Linked DNA regions of Homo sapiens: region 2 is linked to region 1. The links come from fine-mapping of genetic effects on gene expression. A gene starts in region 1. The other region holds a variant in brackets. All regions are shown on one strand. Distances are from middle to middle. Region 1 holds the start of CSNK2A1 (casein kinase 2 alpha 1). Region 2 overlaps CSNK2A1 (casein kinase 2 alpha 1).

Region 1 (2,768 bases):
CCCAGAGTGCTGGGATTACAGGCGTGAGCCACACGCCCGGCCTCTCTTCTTAGTTTTCATTTCCTCTCCCCATGTCCCATTCTCGTAGAATTAAACAGCTGAAAAGTAATCAAGTCTTCCCAAATAATTTGCCACCTTCTTTTCAAAACTCTTTCCTCCACACAAAGCAATAGCCAAGATGCAACTTCTCCTGACCCTGACTCTGCTTCCCCAAAACAAACTACAGAAGCTCCACCCATCACCTGCTTAATCTAGCAATGTTCCAACACTGCAAAAAACACACAACGAAAAACAAAATTGAAAAGTCCTACTCTTTCAAAAGGTCACCAACATATGTATACCCTTAGCCAAGCTTTCTCTCCATACCTCTTTTTCTATCCAGGCTCCTAACTAGTCCTTAACTCCAACTCCAGACGTTCTGCCCCACGTCTTGGTCCCTTCCCCCTTTCGCCCCAGCAACCCCGCCTGGGGTTCTCTCCACCTCGCACCCACTCTGCAGGTGGGAAGCTCAGCCCCGCCCAGAGGGACCCTAAGAAGGCCCCTACTCCAGCTGCCCAGTTTCGCGGGAGGGTTCACTGCACACTACCCAGCAGGCACCACTCCCTCCGCACCCTCCCCCAGCACCCCCCTGCGGCCCCACCCCTCAAGTTCCCTTCCCCCTCTGACGACCCCCTCCTCCAAGTTGTCCCCTAGTCCCCACCCAGTTCAGTCCTCTCCTCTGCAATAAGCTGGACTCCGGCAGCCGGTTCCCACCCTCACATCGGCCTCTGCCCCCAAACCTCGCCCTCCGCCCTGAGGGGTGGCCCCTGGGCCTCCCCGATGGGCTGCAGGGGCCTCGCTTGGTTTATGTGTGAAGGTGGGGGCAGGGGAAGGCGACGGGCCGCTCAGGAGTCTGCTGGAAGCGTGAGGGTCGGCCGCGCTCCGCTGCCCTATCCTGGGCCCACCCCACCCGCCAACGACCTCGCCTGGCTGCTCCCTAGGTACCTGTGGTGGAAGCGGCAGCGGCGGCGGCCGCTCTCCCCTCTGCTCACACAGACAATATGGCGGCGATGGAGGAGGAGACACACGGCTCGGCCGCCAGCCGCAGGGACCAGAGCGAGGCTGCAGCCGCTGCTGCCGGAAGCGGAAACCCCCTCCTACCAGGAGGCGGGGCGAGACAGCTTCCGACTCCGCCCCCAGAGGAATCTCTCTGAATGCGGCCATGCTGGGATGTCCTATTGTAACCTTAGGGATTCAGTTCTGGCCTAGGGTGCAAAATGGAAGGAATCCCCAACGCAAAGCAGAATAAGGAGACTTGCAATAGTTAAGCGCATTTTATTTCAATAGTGTTAACAAGTGACAACAGAGAGAACACGAACCTCCCATTAGGTGAACAGTTGGTTTGACCCAAGTTAAGATGGCGGTACCCAGGTTTCCCACACTTCACCCAGCTGGCCCCCCTTTCTTGAAAAGAACCATGCGCGACCTGCAGAGCTGTAGAGCCAAGCATTCTGGGAGCTGAAGTCTCTTTTGCTCTGACCCCTCGTTTTAAATTAGGGTTTCAGCAACACTTTCTATTCAAACTTGGAGTTCGGAAGAAGTGAATGAAAGTTGGACCCTAGGAAGGGCATGGCGCAGGAGTCTGAGAAGTGAGGATACTAGCTCTCAAGAGACCAAGGCCCAATTCCTTCCTCCTACAGGAGTCCTGCCAAGAGCTGTGCGTCCAAAATACAGTGTTTTTTTTTCCTTCTATCTGCCTCCCACCCCTGCTCTCCTTGCCCGAGCTACCTCCCCAAAACAGCCACAAAGCACTTTCTACCATGCAGAGCTCATCATGGTCTCCCTATGGTCAAAAATCTCCCATGGACCTCTTTATGCACCAAAGATAGCCCAAACTCTTCACTTGACATTCAGAGTCCTCCATAATTTGGCCAAACCCTCCTTTCCAGCCTCCTATTCTGCCACTCTCTTCTCAAATTCCGGAAGATTCCACCCACAAGACTGCAAACAATTCCTGGAACTTAGCTGTGTTGCCTCCCTCCCTTTACACTGGCAGTTACTTCTCTTACTGTCACCTCATGGACTGGATAATTTCTGTATGCCGATTGAACTAATTCAGGGATCCTTTCCTCTAGGGGTCTCCTCTCTGTTTAACTCCCTCCAACCCAGACACTATCAGTCAGTAACCTGAGGACCTCAGTCTGTCTCCTCCATCAGACTGGGAGCCCCCAGTGGACAGGGCTCCATCTGATGATCAACCTCTCCTTTGCAGGCCCTGATAAAAGCTGAAGCGTCTAAGAGTTGCTGAAAGGAGTTCAAGTATTAGTCTCACCTCTGGTGGGACAGAGGTGTGAGCACTGGAACGAGGGTGAGGAGGCCAGGTTCTTTCAGTACCAACCATTATCCCTAACTGTCTCAGAATAGCTGGTTGTCTCAGGAATGGGCCTCTCCACCCTCCACAGCCCTGCCTTCACAGTTTGTCAGCTGACTAGCACCTCTGCTCCCAAAGAGGCACCTCTTCCCCATGTGGGGTTAGGGCTGGTGGTGGCTGCAGACTTATAGTGATGGCCTCAGGGAGGTGGCTGTGGCCTTCTCTGGACCTCATCTGCTAGACAGCTTGTGACATCTGATCCCAATTGCCTGGGAACCCACAACAGTTTTTCTCTCAGTGTCCTGTAACTGGGCCTCAATTTCCCCACTTGTGGACTGAGGAGGTTATACAAGATAATCCCAAAGTTTCTGGGAAGCCATCTTCCAGGAAATGATACCCTTCTACCTACCTCTCGAAC
Region 2 (2,768 bases), 51 kb before region 1:
ATGAATTAAGGTGATTTATATTTTACATTTCATATAAAAAGGACAGCTGTGAATGTGCATTAAGTGGCCTACCTAAATGCACAAAATGATACTTTTTTTTTTTTGGTAAATTATGTGCGAAATAAACACAGGATCAAAACTGTGCCTGCCCTTCTGTTCTTACCTGATAGTCTACAAGTAGCTCAGGACCTTTGAAGTATCGGGAAGCAACTCGGACATTATATTCTTGGCCAGGATGATAAAACTCAGCCAAACCCCAGTCTATTAGTCGTAGCTGAAAAAGAATAAACCATGAGCAATCTTATCTTTCTCTAAGCTACCCACACTGTGCCATTAGCATACTCTTGATAAAATATACCAGACACGTCACTCTTTACTGAAACCCCTCCACTGACTACTTATAGCCTTTAGAATGAAAATAAAACTTCTTAGCTTGACAAACCTCTTTCTCCATGATTTTGTTCCTGGAAGACACAATCTCACCTGTGCTTTTACAAATTTCTTAAACTGCTCAATGACTAAAATGTCCCTACTACCCAGCCTATAATCCTATTGGTAAGCATTTCCTTAACTTTTGGAATATTTAAGTCAGCTTCTCAATGAAGTCTGATCATTGCCTTCAGCCCCCTGAATTTTAGATATATTTCTTTAACAGAACCTAAACTCTTTATGTTTTCTACCTTTCTTTTTCAATATGGACGACAAGCTCCTTAGGGGTAGGGACTGTTTTATTCACCTTTGTAATTTTCAGAATTCAACATAATGCCTGGTATACAGGAGAAAAATGAATAAATATTTGCTGGATAGATGAAATAACAGAAAAGTCATACAATACAGCTTTTACCAAAATGCATCCTAAACATGGAAAAAGGGGTAAGAGGCAAGCTTATCTGCCCACTGTGCATAGCATGACCATGATCTGAAGTGCCAGCAGTAGGCCCTGAGGAAAAACATCGGACTGCTCTGGCACTAAGTTTACTGCCTGTATCTCAAAACTAAACCTTTGATTACTCCCTGCAAAAGCACCTCCACTCAGTCTCCCCCTGTTCGGTTAAAGGTGATACTCATCCTGTCATACAAGCCAAAACTTAAGATTCACCCTGGATTCTTGATTCCCTCAGACCTCACATTTAATCTGTCAAAAAATTCTGAAGGTTCTATCATATTGTGACCATTATCATCACCTCCACTGCCACTGCCCCGATCCAAGCCACCACCACCTCTTGTTTGATATATTGCCATAGCCCCTTCTCCTAACTGGTCTCACTGCTTTCACTCTTGCCCTCTAGTCTAAACAGTTTAATAAATACTAAATAGTTTAATAGTTATTTTAAAAATAATTAAATATTTAAAAATAAATATAAACAGCTTTTTAAAAGGATTGTTCAGGTTGCTATGGAGAGATTATAGATTCACAGGAAATTGCCAAAGTAGTAGAGATTCTCTGCACCCTTTACCCAGTTTCCCCTAATAGTAACATCTTACATAACTACAGTACAATATCAAAATCAAGAAACTGACACTGGCACAATTCAGAAAGATCTTATTCAGGTTTCACCAGTTTTACATGCACGCATGTGTTTGTGTGTGTGTTTCTATGCAATTTCATCACATATGTAAGTT[G/C]ATATAATCTCCTCAACAAGATATAGAACTGTTCCATCACCACACACATGTCCTGTGTGTTAGCCCAACCCCTGGCAACCCCTCTGCTCTTTATCTCTATCATTTTGAGAATGCTACAAAAATGGAGTCATTGGCATATAACTTTTTTTGAGACTGCCTTTTTTCACTAAGCATGAGATCCATCCAAGTTGTTGCATGTGTCATACTTCTTTCCTTTTTATTGCTGAGAAATACTACTTCATAATAATATTATATGGTATGGATATGCCAGTTTGTTTAACCATTCCCTCATTGAAGGGCACTTTTCCCCATTTTTTTTTTTTTTTTTTTTTGAGACGCAGTCTCGCTCTGTCACCCAGGCTGGAGCACAGTGGCACGATCTCGGCTCACTGCAACCTCCGCCTCCGGGGTTCAAGCAATTCTCCTGCCTCAGCCTCCTGAGTAGCTGGGATTACAGGTGCATGCCACCAGGCCCGGCTAATTTTTGTATTTTTTTAGTAGAGACAGGGTTTCACCATGTTGGCCAGGCTGGTCTTGAACTCCTGAACTCGTCATCTGCCTGCCTTGGCCTCCCAAAATGATTACAGGTGTGAGCCACTGCACCCAGCTTTTCCCCCCAATTTTAAGCTATTACAAATATAGTTGCATTCATATATAGGCTTTTGTGTGGACCTAAGATTTTGTTGCTCTGAGATAAATGCCACTGCAGGATTGTATGGTAAGCATATGTTTAGCTTTTCAAGAAACCAACCAACTATAAAACAATAGTTAAGCATTTTCCAAAATGCCAAACTTTGCATTCCTACCAGCAATGTATGAGAGATCAAGTTTCTTCACATTTTTGCCAGCACTTGGTACCATCACTATTTTTTATTTTAGCTGTTCTAATAAATGTGTAGTTAACTTTTAAATTTCAAGTGAGAACATGCTAAAGCTTAGAATATGCAAAAGCTCTCTATCTTCAGAGAAAAGGCCTAACAATGACCAATAAGGTTTTACATGATTTGGTTTTACCTCTTTGATTTCATTTCCTCCTTCTTTCCCCGCATTCATTCTGTCCCAGCTTTATCCTTGCTGCTGCTCTTCCAACATGCCAAACATATCCTTACCTGAAGGGCTTTTGTACTTGCTATTTACTCTGCCTT

The links. PIP is the estimated chance that this variant, and not a neighbour inherited with it, causes the effect.
Region 2: its variant is the best candidate, but not a certain one, in a credible set for the expression of CSNK2A1 in lung (TOPMed, PIP 0.54).

What each region holds. Positions count from the first base shown.
Region 1 is chr20:542,688-545,455 of GRCh38, forward strand. CSNK2A1 (casein kinase 2 alpha 1) reads right to left here and starts at 1,103. Exons shown (of 14, transcript NM_177559.3): 1 at 985-1,103. RefSeq lists enhancers at 1-116, 810-1,503, 989-1,138, 1,159-1,238, 1,349-1,398 and 1 more and a silencer at 609-668.
Region 2 is chr20:492,091-494,858 of GRCh38, forward strand. It overlaps CSNK2A1 (casein kinase 2 alpha 1), which reads right to left. Exons shown (of 14, transcript NM_177559.3): 9 at 164-274. Among named protein-coding and RNA genes, the nearest start is that of TBC1D20, 31 kb to the left of the region's middle. The variant G/C (reference allele first, on the strand shown) is at 1,624.